Linked DNA regions of Homo sapiens: regions 2 and 3 are each linked to region 1. The links come from fine-mapping of genetic effects on gene expression. A gene starts in region 1. Each other region holds a variant in brackets. All regions are shown on one strand. Distances are between the middles of the regions.

Region 1 (8,182 bases):
ACATGAGCTAGGGTCCAAACACTCACATATGTGCCACTGTCCAAGACCTCTCATATACCACACAAATTCAAAGATAAATTAAGAATTTTGGCTGGGTGCGGTGGCTCACGCCTGTAATCCCAGCACTTTGGGAGGCTGAGGCGGGCGGATCACGAGGTCAGGAGTTAGGGACCAGCTTGGTCAATATGGTGAAACCCCGTCTCTACTAAAAATAAAAAAATTAGCCAGGCGTGGTGGCGTGCACCTGTAGTCCCAGCTACACGGGAGGCTGAGGCAGAAGAATCACTTGAACCTGGGAGGTGGAGGTTGCAGTGAGCTGAGATCACGCCATTGCACTCCAGCCTGGGCCACAGAGCGAGACTCCATCCAAAAAAAAAAAAAAAATCACCAGGCTGGGCAACAGAGGGAGACCCCATCTCTAAAAAATAATAATAATAATAATAAAAACAATTAGCCTTGCATAGTGGCATGTGGCTATAGTCCTAGCTACTCAGGAGGCTGAGGCGGGAGGATCCCTGGAGCCCAGGAGTTGGAAGCTGCAGTGAGCTATGATCCCACTACTGCACTCCAGCCTGGGTAAGAGAGTGAGATTCAGTTTCTAAACAAAAAACAAAACAACAAAGACTGCAACCGCAGAACACTGAGCCCCAAGTGAGTGCAGGGCCCTGTGCCTCTGAGGGTCTGCATGCCTAGGAAGCCGCCCTGCCCCCGACATCGGCAGCAGGAAGTGCGATCCATTCCTGGATGGAGGTTGGGTGAGTTCCCCAGGGCAGGCAGTATTAATGCGAATGACCGTTAATTTTCTCGGGAGGGTGGCACCGTCAACTAATTAGGAATGCTGTCTACTTTGGCTCATTGTGTGTTCAAGGATAAGATGACAAAACAAAATAGTCTGGATGATTTTGAGAGCTTAGCTGCATTTCATTCCTCTTACCTCTGAGTTTTAACGTAAGTCAGGGGCCTCCTCATGCAAGATTTATACTGCTCACAGTTCCTCTCAATTTTTTCCTCCGATTTGTCTATCCATTTTCCCCAGAGGACAGTGAATCGGGGCTCTTGACAGCCTGCTTCACCTAAGAGCGCCAATCAATCCTCCCGCAGGGTTTCCACTGAGCTTTGGCTGCTAAGTACATTTACGCAACCGAGCCGACGGGCTGTGCCTGCAGGCAACGGCGTCCGCCAATTTCCGTTCATTTAACGGCGAGACTGGGGGAGCCCGGGCCGGCAGGCGGGTCCTCAGGAAGCGCAAATTTCACCTTCCCTGACTCCTCTCACCGCTAGATTAAAACTGCGCCCCTCGGTGGCTCAAGCCTGTAATTCCAGCACTTTGGGAGGCAGAGGTGGGTAGATCACCTGAAGTCAGGAGTTTGAGACCAGCCTGGCTAACATGATGAAACCCCGTCTCTACTAAAAATACAAAAATTAGCTGGGCGTGGTGGCACGCGCCAGTAATCCCAGCTACTCAGGAGGCTGAGGCGGGAGAATTGCTTGAACCCGGGAGGCGGAGGTTGCAGTGAGCCGAGATCACGCCATTGCACTCCAGCCTGGGCAACAAGAGCGAGACTCCATCTCAACCAACCAACCAAACCAAACCAAAATAAAACAAAACAAAAACCTGCGCCCCTCCTCATGGCTCTTCTTTTGGCATAGCACCTGCAAAATATCTTCCTTATTTATTGTTTGTGCCCGTTAGAACATAAGCTCCAGGCAGGCACAGGAGCAGGACTCAGGGGTCGGTGAACGTGACGGGAGTCCAAAGTCAGTGGGGGATCCATCTTGTCTTAGGAGAGCAAAGACCTTCTCTCTGTCCTCCCCAGTTCCATAGCTGGCTCTATGAAATTAACTGCCAACGGGCAGATGAACGGGGGGAACGGGAATACACATTTATTAATCTTTAATATCACCTGCATGGGGGCATTGCAGGAAACTAGGTGAAAACCCCCCAAACCAGTGAGCTTTGAGAGCTTCTAAAATTGGGGAACTGGAAGCTGGTGTAGGCCACTTAGGGGAGAGTAACTGATTTTTAGGAAAGATGCATAAGTCTTTATGAGTTTGTGACAAAGTTTGTCTAGGTGTGGTGTGGACTTCTGCTGTGATAAGAGTCCATCCTCCCGGGAGGGAATTTACGACAATCAGTTTCTTTTGGAGGTTCCGTCTTTAGACAGGTAAGGGGAGAACGTCTCTCTGCATTTGCTATTTTTCAAGTGCCTCTCGCTCAAAATAATCAATATACCAAAGCGGCATATTTTAGGATGGCATATTTTGGTTTCATTCACTGTCTTTAAGTTTTTGATATTTTGTTCATTATAAACTTTTTTTGCATTCATTTTGACTTTTTAAGATATTGTATTAAAACATTATTTACCTTGACTACTGAGTTTTTTTGTCGCGCCCTTAAATTTTGCCCCTATGCGAGTGCCTCGCTCGCTTGCCTCCTTCTAGCCCGGGTCTGGCAGGGAGTTGAAATTATTTTTCTCACTGCTGAATTCCCAGGGCCTACAACAGTGCTCGCCAAAAAATTAATACTCTTGGTTCTTCAAATAAAACATTCTGTAAGGACTGCTCCCAATTTCTTCCTGAACTTCACGAACCCTCCCAGCCAGGCCACAGGATGTCAGGGGCAAACACCCTGAACCAACGGAGCTCAGGTTCCCTACCACCCCGCCCAAGCCCGCTCCAAGCCCAATTACCCTTCCCCTTCCTCGTCGTCCCATCCTCCCTGATGCCTCTTCCAGGGTGCTGGGCCGCGCGGCAAGAGCTCCAAGGCAAGATTCAAATGCCCTGGGGAGACGGCTGCGGGACACCTGCGGCGGGGCCCGGCAGGGAGCGCGAGACTGGAAGAGAGGCCAGGAGGGAAGGAGAGCGACGCGGGGTTTTGGGGGAGGGGCTGCGTGGGGCGCTGAAGGGGAGCGCGAGGAGTGGGAGGAAGTGAAGGAGGAGGAAGAGCACGGTGTGGGGGAAGCGCAGGAGGCAATAGGTGGGGCGGGACGGAGGGCAGGGCGCTGCGTCGGGAGAAAGTGTAGAAGCGCTGGGGAGAGTGCCCACGACGGGAGAGCCCAGGGGCGCGAGGGCGCGGGAGTGTGGGCGGGGCGCAGTGGGGATGGGGGCGGGGGCGCGGGATGTGGTAGGGGGCGTAGTGGGGAGAGAGTGCAGGAGTGTGGGCAGGGCGCAGTGTGGGGAGGGTGCGGGAGTGTGAGCGGGGCGCAGTGGAGGGAGTGCAGGATGTGGGCTGGACAACCAGTGGGAGAGGGCGCGGGAGGTGGGCGGGGCGCAGTCGGGATGGGGGCGGGGGCGCGGGATGTCGGCGGGCCGCAGTGAGGGGGAGGGCGCGGGAGTGTGGGCGGGGCGCAGTGGGGGAGGGAGCGGGAGTGTGCGCGGGGCGCAGTGAGGGGAAACTGTGGAATGTGGGCGAGGCGCAGTTGGAGAAGAGTGCGGGGATGTGGGCGGGGCGCAGTGAGGGGAAACTGTGGAATGTGGGCGAGGCGCAGTTGGAGGAGAGTGCGGGGATGTGGGCGGGGTGCGGTGGGGGAGGGTGCGGAGATGTGGGCGGGGCGCAGTGGGTGGAGAGTGTAGGGATGTGGGCCCAGCGCAGTGGGGGACAGTGTGGGGATGCGGGCGAGGCGCAGTGGGGGCGGGGGCGGGGATGTGGGCGGGGCGCAGTGGGTGGAGAGTGCGGGATGTGGGCGGGGCGCAGTGGGTGGAGAGTGCGGAATGTGGGCGGGGCGCAGTTGGGGAGCTTGCGGGGAATGTGGGCGGGGCGCAGTGGTGGGAGGGCGCAGGAGTGTGGGCGGGGCGCAGTTGGGGGAGGGTGCAGAGACCTGAGGGCTTGAGGTTGCCTGGCTGGCCCCGCTCCCAGAGGCGGGTGCCGCGCTGTCGCCCAGGTATCTGGGGTCTCTGGTGTCTGAGTGTCTCATTGTCGGCGCGAACACAATTGCTCCAGCCACAGGCGAGGCCTGGCCAAGGTGTGGGCGCATCTGGGGCAGGTCTTGAGAGGTCCAGCGCCCGGTGGTGCGGACAGAGGCGGGGCACCGCGGCGCTCGCCGCCGCCTCCCCGCAGGTGATCATCCTCCTGCAGGTGTCCTCGGGTCTCAGGTGGCTGCGTGTCTGCGCCATGGTTGACATTCTGGGCGAGCGGCACCTGGTGACCTGTAAGGGCGCGACGGTGGAGGCCGAGGCGGCGCTGCAGAACAAGGTGGTGGCACTGTACTTCGCGGCGGCCCGGTGCGCGCCGAGCCGCGACTTCACGCCGCTGCTCTGCGACTTCTATACGGCGCTGGTGGCCGAGGCGCGGCGGCCCGCGCCCTTCGAAGTGGTCTTCGTGTCAGCCGACGGCAGCTCCCAGGAGATGCTGGACTTCATGCGCGAGCTGCATGGCGCCTGGCTGGCGCTGCCCTTCCACGACCCCTACCGGCAGTGAGTGGGGGTCCTGGGGGGGCGGGGGCCGCCCGGCACGTCTCCCCCATGTTCCCCCAGGCCTCCCCCTCTGCACTGGGGAGCTCTTTATGACGCCCCCCCCCAACACCTCCCCGTCTCTCGGTTCACGTCCGGACTCCGGTAAATCACACTCAGTCTCAGTTTCAACCTCTCTTGGAGACCAGGGAGGGTGCAGACCAGATTCGAAAACCCAGGGCATCGGCACCCCAAGGGGGCTCGTGGAGCATGGACGCGGGCGCGTTTCTGCCTGGGGTCTGGAGCTCCGGGAATCTGCATTGCGAAGGAGCTCCCAGTGGTGGTGATGCTGTGAGTTCGCGGGCTCGGCTCCGGGAACCGCCGGCCCAATCAGCCCTGGACTCCCGGCGCCGCTGCGTCATCCTCCCAGTTAGTGGGCAGGAAGCACAGGGACATGACCCGGTGTCTGGATGCGGGGATGAGGGATGACCCGCGAGGACATCAGCTCTGTGACAGGCACCCACAGTGCAGGCCGTGGTTGGTTTGCTGGGAGGGAGGGACGGGGGCTTCAAGGCTGGCAGGAACCCAGGTGCTGGCCACCTTTGCGGTTTCATTTTTACCGACACTGATGGAATTTCATCACTAGAGAAGCATAAAACTCATTACTATAAACTTTATTACTCTAACTGTTGCAAAGGAGGGGGTAGGGATTGGCAGAGAGGGGATTACAGGGATTGATTGTTCTGCTTTTGGGGTGGGTCTCCTGTGGTCTCCTATGGTGTAAGAGTCCAGACTTAGGTTTAAAGCAGGCCTCGTCAAGTATGTTGTCCTGGCCACCCCCTTCTAGGTACCAATGTGAATTTCTGGGTTTTGCTTTACAGCCTCACATTTCTGGAGATTATCATTAAGTTGTGGCATTACCCCCTAAACTGATTATCATGAGATGACATTCCTTCTGGAAAATGAAAACTGGAAGCTAACTTTGGAAAGTTTTGTAGATGAGTAATTAATGGGAAGAAATCTAATTATTCCCCCAAACATGATTTTTGGTGATTCCCAGTGAAAGAGGAGGCCCAGGCAGGGCACCGCCCAGCCTTCCAGGGGGGTAACCTGCTTCTGGGAGCCTCACTCACACCGGGACTCTGAAAGTTCTATTGATAATGAATCTCCAAGATGGGTGGTTCACTTTGCAAAAGGATTTCTTACAGAATCAGTTCAAGTGGTGCTTTTAAAAACAGGATTGGACTTGTTTAGTACTCAAGTTATTTGTAAGCTTTTGAAAGAACGCAGGTTTGAAAGCGAGAGACGATGGCAGTATCATTATAGTAATTAGGCACAAAGCTCTGGCCCAGCTCTGGGATTTACTTGCCAGGTGATGGCAGGCAAGGTATTTTATTGCTGAGCATATGATACATCACGTGGTTGTTGTCAGGGTTGAGCTGATCACATATGAGCTCATGTGTCCGCTGGTTATGTCCCAGCTCTCTAGTCTATTGCCCCATTTTACAGATGTGCCATTGAGGCATAGAGTTCAGTTCTCCTGGCTCTGAGGACCCTCTTTCTGCCGTGCCCTACTTCCTCACTGAGGGGGTGGTGAGTCTTGGTCCCCAGCGGCACACAGATTGGACTGGGGAGGTCATCGCTTGGGGCCATGGAGACTGCTCGTCTGTTTCTGATGCTCTGGTCAAGCCTGTGAGCTCCAGCTGGAGGCAGTGAGCTGCGTGACGTGGGTCAGCTGTGTGCTCCTATCTTCTCAGCCTGGCTGGCCTGGGAGGGATTTTTCTTTTTGTAAACTTAGCTGTTTGTCCCTACCCCTTTCCACACTGAACTTCCTTAACTCTGTTGTTGTCATGTGTAAGCTAGGTAGTGGGATATTCTGTGGGAATTGTTGGAGCTACGCCCTAAATTCTGCTTATCCTACGTCTACAGGACCTTGGTGTTCCCATCTGATTGGCTCTTGGTTCAAAGACCAATCCGGTTTAGCCATGCCTTGCTCCAACTCTCCGGGGGTTTCCTGAGTTTCCATTGCCCACAGGACAGAGCCAGACATGGTTCAGTGCCTGGCATCCCCAGGGAGTGTGTTTGGTGAGTAGTTGAAGCAAGTGAGCAAAAGACAGTTCTGCAGAGAGATTTGCTTGGCCACAGCCTGCTCCTGGCTGAGATGACAGACTAGAGTCAGGAGTTGCCATGGCAACCCAGAAGTGTGGTTTATGCCAGCAACAAGGATGTGGCTGTGTTAGTTGAAGGCAGGGACCAACGCTGGTTGCAACAGTGCTGAGGACAAGGAGGAACTGGGCTCTTGGATTTTCCCCAAATGCTTAAAGTCCTAAGTTATTACCATGACAACATTCTCTCCTCCAAAAGCAAGTTCTTTTCTCTGTGGACACAGCTCAGGGCCCAGAGGGGATTGAGATGACATTAGGGAAAAAGTGAGGTTCTTTGCCTCTCATGTGCAGCTCCAAGGTTACATTTGTCCCCAGGCAGAGGCTGCCAGCATGGGGATTTGAGGGCTGGTACTGAGTGTCTCTTGGAATATCAGTGAAATGACCACCTCCACCCTCCTGATTCCTCAAAGCCCAGCCTGCTCTGCATCCCCCTGACTGTGTTAGAGCTTGATTTAATGTTGCAAGTGATTAAAACAGCAGCAATGAGAACAACTCAAAGAGCTTGAACAGTAAAGGTTATGGGCTGGCTTTAATGAGACACCCATCAGCCAGAAGATGGTGTCAAGGGCAAGCTGGAGGCCACGGAGGATGCAGCTTTGTGGCTCGCCTTCTGCCACGTCTGCCCCTTGCTCAGGCTGCAGGCAGTTGCTGCCTGGCAAATCCTGTGTCTCCTCACGGTGGCAGAATGGCTGCTGTGTCTCAGACTGCGCATTCCTGTACTTTCCTCTTTCCCAGCACACAGCCAGGTGCTGCACCACGCCTCATTGATTCTGATTTGGCTAGTTCCCCATTTCTGTACTATTAAGTGTAGCCAGGGGCCACCAGATAGATATGCTGACTGAGCAGTTGGCCCAGGTGGAATTGGAGGTGGGTCTTTCCCACACAGTAAGAACAGCTAGCATTTATCAAGTACTTATTATGTGCCAAGCCTCATTCTTCATTAAGCTGTTTATTTAATCCTCACAACAACTCCAGGAGGTGGATTCTGTTATTCCCGTGGTGTAGATGAGGAATCCGAGGTGCAGGAGGTTAACTAGCCTGCCCATGACACACAGCTAGTTCATGCCAGAAAATGAAGGAGACATGGTTTCCCAAGGAGGGTCACAGATGCTGAGCAGCAAACCACAGGCCTGTACTCCCCGTGCTGTCAGGGGCACCATGCCCAGCCTCCTCTCCGCTTGCTGTCTCCTACCTCCTCCCAGTTGGTGCAGGGGATGCAGAAAGCCCTGGAAGACTGCTGTGGGATTGGCCAACTTGAGCAAGCATAAACCACCAGATCTTGGGCACTGCCCCAGCGTCAGAGGTGGGGAGATTGCATTTCTGATGAGTTTCCAGGTGATGTTGGTGTTGCTGCTCCTGGGACCCCATATTGTTCCTGACAGTGCTGGTCAAAGGCTGGTGCATGGACCCATGTCAGTTGGGAATCTGTCAGGAGTGCAGATGCTGTCGGACCTGGGGGTGCTCAGGAATCTGTAGGTGAGATACTGCTGCTGCTGCTGCTGGCATCCCAACCCCTTCACGACCCACCAGCAGCCCTCCAAGGAGTCCTCATGGCCTTGGGGAAGAGGTTCCAGGTTCCTGAGATAACAGAGTCCCACCTGGTCTGGCCCCAGCCGGACCGTCTACTT
Region 2 (8,182 bases), 440 kb after region 1:
ACAGGTTTTTCTGCTTCCTCTTCAGGTCCTCTGGCTGCTCCAGCTCGCTGTGACTTTTCAGGCTTCTCCGCTCTCGCCCTCCCCTCCGCCATTTTCCCCACTGTGGCCGCCCCTTCTGTGTTCTTGACAAAGCATGTTTCTGCCTGACTGCCCATGCCAGTCCACACAAAAAGACCTCCAAGTACGCTTGCCATTGATGGACAATATACATGTTTATAGAAAGCAAGCAAAGAAGCTACGGTTTCTAAAACATTCCGCAAGAGTGAGCGCATTGTTGTCCACCCACCACAGTCTGCCTCCGTCCCTGGCGCAGAGCTCCAGGGGCCCAGAGGGTGGCGTTTCTAGCAGCCTCAGCGGTCAGCCCAGGCCAGGCCTCCCCAGGCCTCTGCCTTCCTTCCCTATGGAAGCTGCGGAGGAAGCACCTCCTCACTGTGGGCACGCTGGAACCCCAGGGAGAGGCTGCCTGGTCACACCAGAGTGAAGTAACTGACCAAACTCAGCAGGGAAGGGCAACAGGAAGCCCAGAACCAACCTGTGCCTGCCATTCCCGACTCCCCGCGGCCCTCACACAGCTTCTCCGCCTCTGAGCCCTTGAGGTCAGCTTCTGGGGCATTAGTTTGCTTTGGGTGAAGCTGTGGTGGGGACCAGGCTTCTGTGTGGAGGGTGCTAAGGGCCAGAGGTAGCAGCAACAGCTTTTCCCCAGAGTGTCTCTCTGGATGTCGCTGGTGGTTTCAGGGCTGCTTGATTCCTGGCTAGGTAGTGTCCAGGCTGGGTCTCTGTTCCAGAACTTGTGGAAGCCAACTAATATAATTTACTAAGACCCATCCAGTTTTTTTCTTTTTTTAAAGTGGATTTTGTTGTCTGCAACCAAGAACTCTGACCAATGTTTCATCCTTCAGGTTCTGAGACATCACTACACTGGGGAGATACCAGCACACACCTCAGTGCCAGGGCCCAACGGCATGAAGCATTTGCACCCAGCATTGCACACGCAGCATTTACAGCCTGCATCATACATGTAGCATTCACACTCTGCATTATACATGCATCGCCTACACCCAGGATATGATACACCCTGCAGCATACGTGTTTCACTTACATCCTGTATCACACATGCAGCATATATACTCTGCATCATACATGTATCATTTTCACGCTGCACTGCACATGCAGCATTTGCACACTTTATTGTACATGTTAATTATAGGCTGTCTGCCTCCCACATGTTTTTGACAGCAGAGCCTGCTCTTTTCACGGCTATACACCCCCTAGAGCCCAGGCTTATCCCTGCCACATGTTTGATGCTTAGTGGGGCCACCTGCCTTTTCCGCCAGCCAAGCATCCTTTCTTTACTTTTCCCTTGCCCTATGTGGAGCCCAATCGGTTTGGTTTGACTGGGGTGTAACTAAAAATATCCTATTAACTGCACTGTCATACAGGTTCCCAGGCCCACCCATAGCCTCAGACCCCAAGTCTGTGTTAGGTCTAAGGATCTAGCTCTGTAACTTGGACAGTCTAGACACAGGTGATCCCAGGACCACACTAGGAACTAGGCAGATGCTGGTCTTCAACCTCGATCACAAACCTAATTATCTGGGGTTCAAAACCACAAAGCCTGAAATTCGTGTTCAGTTGGGCTGGAGTGTGGTGAAAGTGCTGCTTTAAGTTCCTCTGAATTTAAATGTGCAGCCACGCTTGTGAACCACTGTGCAGCTTCCAGAGGTCTCACTGCTCCCCGCAGCCCCTCCTCAGCCCCCTGCCGGTGGGGGGAGTCTCCAAGACCAGCAGTCAGCCTCCAGCCTCTTTTCTCAGCCTCCTCAGACACCTATTAGGTCCTGTTTGGCCTTTTCTTAGGCCATGGGCGCTTGGAAAATGAGGACGCTGCAACAGCATCAATGCAGGGACACTGATCCAATATATGCAGAAGTGGGGGTGATTGGGACTTATCCAACAAGTTCCCTGTGCCTGTCTAGGAACCTTAACCACCAGCTTTAAAGAAAATGTCCGCTTGGGATCCTCCCGCCTGCTTCTGCTAGGTGCCACTGCTCAGGTTGAGCAAAGTCTTATCGAGCCACCTCAGGAAGCTAAGGTCCCCAGCTTCCCTGATTCCACAGGGTCTGACGCTCCAGCCTCATCATTGAAGCCTTGCTTGTCTAATGCCCCCAGGCCAGGACACCCACCAGCTGTGAAGCCTGCAAAAAGGCCGGGATACCTCCAGGAGCCAGGCGGGGATCCTCAGCATCTCTCCCTTCCCACTGCCGGCCCCTGCAATGCAGACACACACTCACACTTTCACGTGCCATACACACAGTCACACACACCACACGAACACATGCAGACTACACAACACACACTCACATACACCACACACAAACACATGCACACAACACACAAACTACACGATGTACACCACACCCCCCACACACAGACTACACAACACACAACAAAGACATACACTACACACAAACACATGCACACAACACACACACACAAACTACGCAATGCGCACCACACCCCCCCACACACAGACTACACAACACAGAACCCACATTCACATATACCACACACAAACACAGGCACACACCACACAACACACACTATACTAACTACACAATGCACACCACACACACAAACACACAGACTACACAGCACGCACACAACAAACACATGCAGACTACACAACACACACAAAACACACATCACACATATGCAGACTACACAACACACAACGCATACATGCACCACACATAAACACATGCACACACCACACCCCACAACCACCCAACAACCTACACAACACACACACACCACACAAACTACACAACGCACACACACTACACACAAACAGATGACACAACACATGCCACACACAAATACATGCAGGCTACACAACACCCACACACATACATACACCACATGCAAACACATCCACACAACACACCATACACAACAAACCAACACATGCAGATTACACAACACACACACCATACAAACACATGCAGACTACACAAAACACACACCTCACACCACACATACACAGACTACACAACACACAACCCACTCACATATGCCACACACAAACGCATGCACACACCACACCTCACAACCACCCAACAACCTACACAACACCACACACACACCACACAAACTGCACAATGCACACCACACACAAACACACACACACACCACACAAGCACACACTACACAACAAAAACCACACACCACACACAACATAGAAACACACACACTACACTACACACAACACACATACTACACAACACATACTTATATTCATACATGCACCACACGCACAGGCACACACATTACACACCACACACACATACCACACACACACTACGCACTACACAAAACATACATTTTACACACATTCTACACACATTCTTACATTCCCACACAATCACACATGCACAAACATGCACGTGTAAATACAGAGACAGACACACACGTGTATGCACTCTCTCACACACACACACACACAGATGGCAATGCTCAGAGAGCTGGAACACTCCAGGCTAGCTCCATTTCCCAGCGCCCCTGAGCTGGGGGCTGGGGTCTGTGCCACACATGTGCATGCATGTGCGCGCGCGTGTGTGTGTGTGTGTGTGTGTGTCCTGCAAGCTGGAGGGCAAGCCCCTCCTCTGTCAGGAGGCCTTTGCCCCACCCTGCATGCTTCCAGTCTTGCTGCCCCTCCATGAGAGCAGCTGTCATACTTGTCACCACTTCTATCTTCTGTTCTTCCCTCTCTCCTAGATTATAGGCTTTTTGAGGACAGATATTTAGTCCCATTCATCACTGTGCTCCCAGTGCCAGTTCTGGGCCTGGCATGGCAACATTAGTTAATGGATTAGATAAAGAAATCAATGAATGATAGTTGGGAGGGACAGAGAGAGGGAGGGAGAGCAGAAAGTACTTAGTTGTCCAAACCATATGTTCTAGTTTCTTTTTAAAGGGCCCTGGAATTTACTCTCTATGTGACAGAGTGCATGGCAGAAAGAACACTGATAAATGTAGCAAGTTTATGTTGAAAATTTCATTAAAAGTGACAAGAATATAAATATATGTTGCTTGAATAATGAGTGGATCTTATCTTCCACTTTGTGGATGCTCACAGCATGGCTATTGTCCTGCAAATTTAGGAGAGCATAATATAATACCAGCAGCAGTATTTAAAAATTCTAGGTTAACACAGAAAACACCTTGCTTTCTTGACATCTGAATCAAATAAGATTGATAGTGAGAGAAAAATAAGACTGTTTTCATCTTAAATTCTCTTCCAACATAGTAGAAAATGAATTGAAAATACCAGTAACTGCCGGGCACAGTGGCTCATGCCTGTAATCCTAGTGCTTTTGGAGGCTGAGGCAGGCGAGTGGATCACCTGAGGTCAGGAGTTCAAGACCAGCCTGACCAACATGGGGAAACCCTGTCTT[T/C]ACTAAAAATACAAAAATTAGTTGGGTGTGGTGGTGGGCACCTGTAATCCCAGCTACTCGGGAGGCTAAGGCAGGAGAATCACCTGAACCCGGGAGGTAGAGGTTGCAGTGAGCCGAGATCGTGCCACTGCACTCCAGCCTGAGCAACAGAGTGAGACTCTGTCTCAAAAAAAGAAAGAAAGAAAGTGCTAGTAACCAAAGCGGTAATTGGCATAAAACATTCCAAATATATTGTCAGATCCCCAAGGCATCAGAAGCAACTGATCAGCAAGGAGCCCGAGGGAGGTAAACCGGGCAACCACTTCAAATCAGCCTGTCCTGCCTACAGAAAACTGCCTTGTAAGGTTCTGAGATCCCTGCTGTACACACAGATACACACACACACACACAGTTTCTTTCTCCACCCTTTTCTCAGGGTCCTCTTGAGCTTCAGGACCACAGAGTTGCTGAGCCTACACTTCTACTGTCTCCAGCTTTTGGAATCTAGCCAAAGTGGCTGTCTATTCTCCCAGGGCCCTGGTCCCTCCTGCCCGCTTGTATTAAGCAACCAACTGTCGAACATTTTAATTTGGTGAATAAAAATCTCTTGACCCTGGAAGACTGTAAGTGAGATGAAACCTTGTTCTTTCTCTGCATTGTGGCTCTGCTGGGCACATCTGGCCACCTCTACAGCTCCAGCCCCGACCAGGAGGGTCATCAAGCTGATACCCCCAGGTAAGCAGGCAGGTCTGGATGCAGGACTCCCCAGGAGAACTTCCAGGGCTCCTGAGTGCCAGGTCCTGGCATGGGGTGGTTGTGGCATGCCAGGGTGAGACTGAAAATAGTCTACACATCCTGAATGTTAATGTGCATTTTAATTATGTGAATTTTAAAAATAAAAAGATCAGTTTATGTGAGTAATTTGAAAAAAGATAAATCCTCCCCTCCTCAAGAAAGGTCAGGAACTTCCATCATGTCAAAGCAGGCGGAAGTGAGTAAAAACTATGTTTCTACCGCGTGGGAAGACAGAAACAACCCTCTGCATCATGCCTTGAAACTGGCTTGAGTGAAGGAAAAATCTCACAAATGTGTTGCTCAAGTGTAACAGAGATCCAAGCCTTCTGGAGAGTGGGGAGCAAGGTCTGAAGGCAGATGCAGAATCCAATTTGGGATGAAGGAAGGGGAATTAGGGGAGATTTACCTCTTCAATGGCCAGGAGGTAATATGGAGCAAATCAGACATATCACGGAAGGCTTCCTGCAGGAAGGACCACTTGTCTGGAACATGTGTGGGATTTAATGTGGTAAGCAAGGAGGCAAACGCTTAAGGAGGGGGGACAGCAAAAGCCCTGTGGCAGGAGGCAGCATGACAAGAATGAGCTTTCTGAAGGTGGGGAGGAGACAGCCGAGAGAGTATGGGTGTGACAAGGCAGAGGTGGCTGGAGCCAGGATACACAGGGCACTTAGGCCGTGCAAGAGTGTGGACTTCACCCCAGGAGCTGAGGAGCTATAGAGGGGCATTTTGAGAAGACTCCTTTGGCTACAGTGCGAGGCATGATTGGGAAGAGTGAAGTTGTGAACGATGCATGACTATTATGGAAATTAAAGAGAAAATTAGAAATGAGAAGGCCCCAGGTGCAACCCTGAGTAAAACCAGAGGCATCTGCAAAGTAGAGCAAAGGAGTAGCAGACAGGAGAATCAACAGATGATCTAGGGAAAAACAACTGCCCCAAAGCAGGATCCGTACTGGCAGAGCTGGCTGGGTGGTCACGATGGAGGAGAAGGGCAGTGGTGTAGGCACCGAGGACCTGGGCAGCGTTAGCAGGAGGTGCTCTGCTTGCAGTAATGGATTCAAGCTAAATGGGAGAGAGCTGAGGAGAAAGAGAGGAAATAGTACTTTTCTAGGAAGATGAGGAAAGATGGTAGCTGTGGGCAGGAGGAGGATGAAGTTGTCTAAGGAAATGTTGTGCTGTTGTTATTATTGTTTAAAACGAGATGATTTCCCTGTGCTTAAAACCCAATGCGTTTTCCACCTGAATATATTGCATTCACCACACTTACCTTCTCACACTCCTGAAACTCCACTCTAGCGGCAATAAATTTACCAGATTTGAAGGCCAAAGGGATGAAGAAAGCTGGGCCAGCGACATTAGGGAGAAAGACAGCAAGCGTTTGGGAGAGAAGTGGATGGAGGGGTGGAAACTGGCTTAGCAAAGTGGAAGAGGCTGCAACTCGGACTTGCCGAGGAGGGTGCTGACAGTGAGCTTGCTAGATTTTCCTCCAGAACCAAGAAAGGGAACAACATGGGCCCTGGGTATAAGAAACCTGACTCAGGAGCACAGGAAAGCAAATCCCTGGGTGCCTGAGCTGGAATCTCAGGATGAAGCTACGCAGAAGGCTCATTAATGATCATCTCCCCGTCTCCTCCTCCTCCTCCTTTTACTGCCACTGGGAAGCCTGAAGGGTTCACACCAGGAGAATTCTCTCCCATCAGCTTCCTGTCAAGCCCATTCCCATTTGGTCTACAATGCTGATGTTTGCAAACCACATCAAATACGGCTGTCTCCTGGGAACCGGTAAATATTGTGGTTGGTTGGGATGGAAGTGCTGGGATGAGAGGAGGCTTGTTGGAAGAGGGTGTCGAGGGACAAAAAGAGGAAAGAAGCCTGTGTATTTTTGGTAGGGAAAGGACAGATGAAGAAAGGCTGTTTCCCAGGAGAATGTGTTACATTGAGCCATGTGAAATGACCACCTGCACCGCCATTTTTAATGATTAAAATGGAATTTTATACAGTCGCCTAATAAGAATTGTACTTAAGAAACATTGAAGCTCTTCTTTATAAATGCCCTCAGTCTTTCATAAACCCAGCACACAAGCCCATCAACACCATCCCCGCCTCCCTTCCCCACGACTTTCTTGTCTCTTGCTGTCCCAAACAAAAAGGGAAGAAACAAAATGACCAGAGTCCTTCAACTCCAGAAGTCTAAGACAGCTTCTGATCTTTGCTTTAGGACTGAAATCTCTAATTAGGAAAGCCCCCAGATGCAAGATCCTAGTTGTGGCTTTAGGATTTTGCAAAACCAGATAAAAAGCAGAGGTAAATGATAAACCCAGAAAAACGCCTACCTGCAGGGCCTAACCTGTTGTCTGAAGCCCCAAAGGTAATTCAGAATCGTCTATAATCACCTGAAAATAGATGCCACCGTGCTAGAAAAAATCATCTGTAATTCATAAGGAATACAGTTAATTCCATTCAATAAAAGTTGTGGGGACTGCGGGATGTACCAGGGCTTCAATGACTATAATGGGCACATAGGCATTTAAGGATAAATAAAAGGGAAAAAAGGAAGAAAAAGTTTTGTAGCATTATGATTTTAAGTTTAGATGCTCAGGCTAACCAAGAGGAGATAAGTGGATAAATTCAGGAAAAATAAAGTCTACAGCTGGGAGCCATGTGGTCATCTAAAAGTCAGAGTTAAGGGCAATGAGCCACTTGAGAAATGGCAAGAAGTGCTGGTGCCAAGCTCAGTTCCATGAAGCAGGAAATGGCCAAGCCGGCCACCAGCCCTGAGCATGTCTCTCTGGATACAGAGAGCCTGCAGCCCCTAGCCTTCCTCCAGCTTACCCAAGGGATCCTGGGATTTGTGGCTCAAGGTTTTGGAGTTCTATGTGCTGTATTTGCATTGTCTGGAAAGAGAATAGTTTAGAAAAAAGCCATTCCTCATTGAGACCGCAGGCTCCAGGAACAGCA
Region 3 (8,182 bases), 40 kb before region 1:
TACTGTACTTGTTAATGAATATTATTTTTGTTGTTTTTTTCCCAAATATTTCTGATCCATGATTGGTTGAATCCACAGATGCGGAAGACCAGCTGTACTTGTGACTTGCCCATTCATGAGCCAGGCTTAGTTTTACCTATAGCCCCAGCCAGGTGACCCTTATCTGCCTTTGGCTATTAAGAAGGGACTGTTCTTGATGGGGAAAAACCTTCAGGCATCAGTACAAATGATGTTGGTAGTTTAATCAGCAATGAAGCTCAGTCACTTTTAGATGACCTCTGGTTTATTCCTGAAAGCATACAAAACAAGAAGAGTGCTGCCAAACATTTAAAGAAGAAAACATACCATTTTTCACAGACTCAGGAAGAAGAAGAGTAAGGAATACTTACCAACTCATTCTGTGAAACCAGTATTACCCTGATAGAAAATCCCTCATGAAAATATTGATAGTTACAAAAAACCATGAACAAGTCAAATAACATATAGAAAGATTTAGCTACATGGCCAGGTGAGACATGTTTAATACCAGAAAAACAATGTATTTTACCTATTAATAGATGACAGAAGGCAGGAGTCATCTCAAATGATGGGGAAAGAGCATTTGACAAAATCTAACACATATTCATGATAAAAATGGAAAAAAACTGGAATAGAAGATAATTTTTTCAGTCTGATAAAAGGCATCCATAGGCCAAGTGCGATGGCTCATGCCTGTAATCCCAGCACTTTGTGAGGCCGAGGCGGGCGGATCCCTTGAGGTCAGGAGTTTGAGACCAGCCTGGCCAATATGGTGAAACCCCGTCTCTACTAAAAATACAAAAATTAGCCAGGCGTGGTGGCAGTTGCCTGTAGTCCCAGCTACTTGGGAGGCTGAGGCAGGAGAATCGCTTAAACCCAGGAGGCGGAGGTTGCGGCAAGCCAAGATCGCGCCACTGCACTCCAGCCTGGGCGACAGAACAAGACTCCATCTCAAAAAAAAAAAAAAAAAAAGACATCCATAAAAAGAAGTTACCGATAACATTATACTTACGACGAGAGAATATACCCCTAAGATCAGTAGTAAGTCAAGGGTGTCTATACACACCCCTCATTATTGACATTGTACTGCAGTTTCTAACCAGTGCAATAAAGCAAGGAAAAGCATCCAGATTGGCAAGGAAGAAATAAAGTTGTCTTGCTTTGCAGATGACATAATTCTGTATGTAGAAAATCCTAAAGGGTACATATAACCACACTCGTGTGCACACAACGGAGCTGATGAGTTCAGCAAGGTTGTAAGATACAAGATGTATATACGAAAATTAGTTGTATATGTCTATATTGCAATATAGCAATAAATTGTGAAAACAAAACTAAACAATACTGTCCACAGTAGCATCAAAAAGGTCAAAATAGAGCCGGGTGCGTTGGCTCTAGCCTGTAATCCCAGCACTTTGGGAGGCCGAGGTGGGAGGATCACGAGGTCAGGAGTTCGAGACCAGCCTGGCCAACAGGGTGAAACCCTGTCTCTACTAAAACTACAAAAATGAGCTGGGTCTGGTGGTGTATGCCTGTAGTCCCAGCTACTTGGGGAGCTGAGGCAGGAGAATCTCTTGAACCTGGGAGGTAGAGGTTGCAGTGAGCAGAGATCACGCCACTGCACTCTAGCCTGGGCAACAGAGCAAGACTCCATTTCAAAAAAAAAATCAAAATACTTCAGAATAAATTTGACAAAAGTGCAAGATTTGTACACTGAAAACTGCAAAATATGGCTGAGAGGAATTAGTGACTACATAAATGGAGAGACATTCCATGTTCATAGGTTAGAAGACTCAAGATGGCAGTCCCTATCAAAATCCCAGCAGGCTTTTTTTCAGTAATTAACAAGCTGATCCTAAAATTTTTATGGGAATGCAAAGGACTCAGAATAGTCAAAAAAAAAATCTTGAAAAATAACAAATTTGGAGCATTTCCAAATGATAAAATTTACTATAAAGGTGTAGTAATCAAGACAATGTGGTATAAGGATAGACATATATATGTATATATCAATTGAAGATTTGAGGGTCCTGAAATTAGCCCTTAGATTCATTCTTAATCAGTTTTGCTCACAGGTGCCAAGGCATTTCAATGTGGAGAAGATTTGCCCTTTCGACAAATGAGGCTTGAAGCATTGGATATTCACATGCAAAATGATGGATTTAGATCCTTATATTTTCCACAAAAATTAACTCAAAATGGACCATACACCCAAATGTAAGAGTTAAAACTCTAAAACTTAGAAGAAAACATGGGCAAGAATTTTCATGACTCTGGGTTGGGCAAAAATTTCTCGTGTGACACCAAAAGCACAATCTTTCAAAGGTAAAATTGATGAATTGGTACGGTGCGGTGGCTCACACCCGTAATCCCAGCACTTTGGGAGGCCCAGGCAGGTGGATCACGAGGTCAGGAGTTGGAGACCAGACTGGCGAACATGGAAAAAGCCCATCTCTACTCTAAAAATACAAAAAAATTAGCTGGGCATGGTGGGCACCCGTAATCCGAGCTACTCAGGAGGCTGAGGCAGGAGAATCACCTGAAACCACGAGGCAGAGGTTGGAGTGAGCCAACATTGTGCCACTGCACTCCAGCCTGGGCGACAGAGCGAGACTCTGTCTCAAAAAAAAAAACAAAAAAAAAAAAACTAATGAATTGGACTTCATCTAAGTTAAAAACTTGTGTCTCATAAGCCACCATTAAAGAAATGAAAAAAATTACAGATGGGAAAAAGTATTTGCAAATCATATTGATAAAAGATTTATATCTAGAATGTATGAAGAAATCTTCAGGAAGTAATTCATGTAAAAGACAAAGGATTTGAATAGATATTTCTCTAAAAGAAGATATAAAATGGCCAATAAACATTGAAAAGATGCTCAACATCTTTGGCCATTAGAGAAATACTAATTAAAAGTATGAGATACCACTTCTCTCACACTAGGGTGACTATAATAAAAGATAGTAAGAAGTGTTGGTCAGGGTGTTGAGAAACTAGTTGCAGCCCCTTTGGATAGCAGTTTGGTAATTTCCTATGGTAAATACAAATTTACCATATTCGTAGGAATAGACCCATGTGAATTTTAAAATATATGTCTATAGGAAACTTGTAAACTAATACTTGTAGCTGCATCATGTAGTTCATATAGATCTTTGTATCTCTATTCTTGGTGCCAAACTGGAAATAACCCAAATTTCCATAAGCTGGTGAATTGATAAACACAGTAGGTTATATACGCACAAAGGAATCTTGCTCAGATATGAAAAGTGACGAAGTACATGCTACAACATGGATGAACCTCAAAAACTGATAAAATGAAAGAAGCCAAGGGGAAAATACCATGTATTGTATGGTTCCATTTATATGAAATGTCCTGAAGAGGGAAAACTGTAGGGACAGGAAGTGGATTAGCAGGGGGCTGGGATTTGGGCTGCCTGTGGACAGTAGCTGCGAATGGGCACAAGGAGCCCTTTTGGGATGAGGGGAATGTTTAAGATTGGTTAAAATTACTAAAATAAGTAGAATAGGTGATTTTATGACCTGTATGTAAATTCCACCTCAATAAAGCTGTTCAAGGCTCCTGAGATGAGACATGAATTCTAAAAGGAAAGTGTGGGAAGAAGTTTATGATTGTGGTTGTGGGCTGGTGCCTTAGAATTTGTTTTTTGCTTTTGTTTGAGACAGGGTCTTGCTCTGTCGCCCAGGCTAGAGTGCAGTGGGTCAGTCTCAGCTCCCTGCAGCCTCTGCCTCCCGGGTTAAAGTGATTCTCCCACCTCAGCCTCCCAAGTAGCTGGGATTACAGGCACACGCCACCATGCCTGGCTACGTTTTGTATTTTTAGTAGAGATGGCATTTCACCATGTTGGCCAGGCTGGTCTCAAACTTCCAACCTCAGGTGATCCTCCCATCTCAGTCTCCCAAAGTGCTGGGGTTACAGGTATGAGCCACCGGGCCGGGCCTTAGCACTTGTATTGCTAACAAGCTCCCAGGTGGCGTGTTGCTTCCATTCAAAGCCCTGGGACTAGACCCAGTGCCCTGTGTGATAGGATATCCACTTGTGTCTGAATGAGGTGAATGCCTGAGGGGGGCCCTGATCGCCATGGTGCTCCGGGTAAAATCTGGTGACCAGTGACAGGGCTGAAGTCCTGAAAAGCTAAAGGTTTCCCCTTTAGGAAAGAAAATGGTGAAAACCAAAAGATCCTGAGGAGGAGGCTGTCATGAGTTGCAAAGCTCTTGTTGAAAAGCGCGGGAGGAGTGGCTGAGATCAAGAACAGGAACACAAGAAGCTACAAGTGCTGGCTGAGCTGGGCATCCAGGCACAGCCACGGAGATGCGCTCCCGGAAGCAGCTTGTCACTCGGCCTGTGGACACTGCAGGGGACAGGGCTGAGTGAGCGAGACCGTGCTGCAAGGCCCACAAGTGACCAAGCGCTCAACGAAGTACCTTGGCCCTGGGCAGGCCCTCCTGATGCTGGAAATCCGGTCCTGCCTGGAGACTCAAGGAAGGTTAGCCAGTGAGAAAGGCAGATCCCAAAGACATGGCCCACAGACCAGAGTGCAAAAGGCCGAAACCAAACCCCAAGAATACAAGCAAAACAGTTAAGCTGAGTATAGACCCTCATGCAGTTTATTTTCACTCCTTGTAGTTCTTTATCTGAAATCTGCTTTAGGTGAGTTTAGCTGGGAATTAAGTTGGTTGTGCTAGGGAGGGCACTGCCCTCAGGGTGGGAACTGTGAGGAGGTGGACTTGGGTCATCGGGCTGTGGCCAAGAGCCCCCTTTTTGTTACTATTGAG[C/A]GGTCTCACCAGGATTTCCCTCCATCAAAATTCGGGCCGGACGTGATGGCTCACGCCTGTAATCCCAACTTTGTAATGGGGAGGCTGAGGCAGGAGGATCATTTGAGGTCAGGAGTTCGAGACCAGACTGACCAACATGGTGAAACCTCATCTCTACTAAAAAATACAAAATTAGCCCGGCATGGTTGTGCATGCCTGTAATCCCAGCTACTTGGGAAGCTGAGGCAGGAGAATTGCTTGAACCTGGGAGGCGGAGGTTGCAGTGAGCTGAGATCATGCCATTGCACTCCAGCCTGGGCAACAAGAGTGAAACACTCTCTCAAAAAAAAAAGAAAAAGAAGTTCAAGACTAGCCTGGGCGACATGGTGAAAATACAAAAATTAGCTAGGTGTGGTGGTGGGTACCTGTAATCCCAGCTACTTGGGAGGCTGAGGCAGGAGAATCACTTGAACTTGGGAGGTGGAGGTTGCAGTGAACTGAGATCACGCCACTGCACTCCAGCCTGGGCAACAAGCAAGACTCCGTCTAAAAAAAAAAAGAATTCAGGCTACTGCTGTGAGAAACCGGCTCTGCCAAAGAACCTTCCAGAGCCCACTTTGGAGATGGGAGGAAACTCGTTTGTGCATGCTCCATGCATATATGCCCTGCACCATGTTTGTGTGGATTTGAAATGTGCTGGCTGGAGCAAATGTGAGAGCACACAGATGACAGTGTGGAGGGCCAGAAGCAGTGGTGGTCATCTGACATCTGTGGTTCTGTGGGGTGTTTTGAAAGTTTTTTTGAGAAAAATTAGCTATGGAGGCGATCTTACAAGTCAGCCCAGCACCAGGGTCAATTTATATGGGAAAATATCCCATCAAGGTCCTGCACAGGGCCGGGTGCACTCCGTAGCGCGTCCACTGACACCAGACCATGCATGGGGCTCGCCCGAGAGTCAGGCCTGGCTCTTCACGTTCCCTTGTGCTGCCTCCTTCCCGTGTCCAAAATGGACATGGATGAGAGAAGGAAGCAAAAGGTATGTTTAATCCTTTGCTGCCAAAGTCCCTGGACTTTGAGGGAGAAACAGATCAAACATGTCAGAGGCCTTTGGGGTGGGGAAAGGGAAAGTCATTTGCGAAACAGAATGCCATCCAGGAGCAGATGCTAGCAGGGACAGTCTGGAGGCGAGATGTTACGGAGGCTGTTTGGGATAACAATTCATATGGATTTCAAGAGTCTCTTCTACTGGAATCCCTTGCTGGAGGGAGCACCTTATTTTTGCTGTTCTAATGCCTTCTGTGTGTGTTTTTGGTCACAAGGTTTCTCCATGTCAGGTTCCACTGCTGTCATTCAAGGGATATTCTCGCTTTACTGGTGTGACTGGGGATCCCCTCTATATTTCCCTTTTGGTGTCCTTTGCAAGCCACCCTAGGCCCTCCCACTGTTTCCATGGACTGCATCATCTTTGTGTGAGCTAGCGGTCAGTCCAGTGCCAGCTCCAGCCTTGTCCCCACAGGCAGTGACTGCCAGGGCCCTGTCTCCTCTCAGGCTTGGGACATGCATCTTTCTCCAAGATCCACCCAAGAATGATAGCAGGGGTCCAGATCTAAAGGGAAGATGTGCCTTTGGGGCTCCAATGGGCCTCACTCTCCATTCTTATGTGTCCATGTTTGCCCTGTCTCAGTTTTTGAGGAGAGCAACTCAAGGTCATGCCAACCACACTCATTCTGTTGTGAGAGCTGTGCTTTCACCTGAATGCTCTGTATATATTTGAAAATCTGTAGTGTCACGTGCAAATTCAAGTTTTAAGAATGCCTGTACTACAGTGAAGGTGGAGTGGCTGCGCTTGGGAACTGGTTACTTTCTTTGTACAGCAGAAGAACTGTGAGATGGGCTTGAGGCCAAGGGAAAAGGGAATTAGAATGATGCCACTGTCTGCCTCTGACAGGGAAAACCTTAACCTGGACGTTATACCCCGTGTCACAGAAGACTCAGGCAGCAGCCATTCCAGACCTGCTTTGGTTGATTTTATGTCTGTCTGTGTGTGTGTGCTAGCCCCACTGAGTATCAGTGATATTCTTATCTAAATTACATGCCAAAGAATAAAGCCAAGTGTCTGGCCTAGGCAGGGTGTTTTCCTCTCTATTTTGGAGAAATTGTGGTTATAGCAGTAATGAATAACAGTTAATGGATACACAGCAGCCATGCTGGATTGGGAGGCTGCCTCCGAAAGTGCACCCCCGCCCCCAGAGACTTTGTTATAAGTTTGAGATTGCCTTTTTAAATCTCCATTTGATAACTGATCCAAAGAAGTTCTTAGAATTGCTAGGCATGGTGGCTCACGCCTGTAATCCCAGCACTTTGGGAAGCCAAGGCAGGCGGATCACCTGAAGTCAGGAGTTCAAGACCAGCCTGACCAACATGGAGAAACCCCTTCTCTACCAAAAATACAAAATTAGCTGGGCATGGTGGCGTGTGCTTGTAATCCCAGCTACTTGGGAGGCTGAGGCAGGAGAATCGCTTGAACCTGGGGGACACAGGTGGCGGTGAGCTGAGATCGCACCACTGCACTCTAGCCTGGGCAACAAGAGTGAAACTCCGTCTAAAAAAAAAAAAAAAAAGAAATTCTTAGAATTATGATTACTTGATAGTTGCTGTTAAGAAGTAGAATCTAATCTACCAGGGTATCTTTGAATGAAAGTCTCTTAAGAATAAAGCATTGTTTGGATTTGTGGGTGTGAGGACCTAGAGAGACGCTTGGAAACTCTCACTTAGGGGAGACGGGCACAGAAATGTCTTGACATGGAGCATACATATGGGGATAGGACCTTATGCTCGGTTATAATTTCCTTCCTCGTGTTGTCTGCGGATAGCTACTATCAAGACAGTGCCGCTTATAAACACTCTCCAAGTGAGTACCAAGCTGGCTGGACCTCCCCAGGATCAAGCTGCCTCAGCTTGGAATTTTAGAAGCACCTCTTGGAAGAAGCCAAGATGGAGAGAAATTTTGTGTAGGCCAGGAACGTTCCAAACACCTGGAAGCCAAAGTAAGCTTAGCTGTAAAAGTAACGTTCCAAACACCCGGGAGCCAAAGTAAGATTAGTAAGATTAGCTGAGCACATCTTACTAACACCCAACAAAATAAGGACTCAAGGAGAACTGTGCCTGCCCAAGGGCACTGGGCAGGAGCCCAAGTCATGCCCTTCTCATTGTAGTAAGAGCTCAAATTTAATGAACCACAGAACACAGGCACACACAGGGACTTCGATCCATGTGTATGTTTTCTATATAGAGCATAAAATTCTTCACAGTCACCTTACCCTGACAGGCATTGTTACCACGCCCGTGTTACAGAAGGGGCAGGCTGAGTGTGTTGGGGGGGAACTTAGC

The links. PIP is the estimated chance that this variant, and not a neighbour inherited with it, causes the effect.
Region 2: its variant is the best candidate, but not a certain one, in a credible set for the expression of NXNL2 in lung (GTEx, PIP 0.65).
Region 3: its variant is the best candidate, but not a certain one, in a credible set for the expression of NXNL2 in tibial nerve (GTEx, PIP 0.69).

What each region holds. Positions count from the first base shown.
Region 1 is chr9:88,531,324-88,539,505 of GRCh38, forward strand. It overlaps NXNL2 (nucleoredoxin like 2), which reads left to right and starts at 3,855. Exons shown (of 2, transcript NM_001161625.2): 1 at 3,855-4,413. The coding sequence starts at 4,112. LOC105376134 (a long non-coding RNA gene) reads right to left here and starts at 3,217. Exons shown (of 2, transcript XR_007061653.1): 1 at 2,691-3,217. RefSeq lists enhancers at 3,641-4,475, 4,476-5,309.
Region 2 is chr9:88,971,250-88,979,431 of GRCh38, forward strand. It overlaps the pseudogene PCNPP2. Among named protein-coding and RNA genes, the nearest start is that of S1PR3, 16 kb to the right of the region's middle. The variant T/C (reference allele first, on the strand shown) is at 4,452.
Region 3 is chr9:88,491,107-88,499,288 of GRCh38, forward strand. No RefSeq gene overlaps it. Among named protein-coding and RNA genes, the nearest start is that of NXNL2, 40 kb to the right of the region's middle. RefSeq lists an enhancer at 4,378-4,919. The variant C/A (reference allele first, on the strand shown) is at 4,814.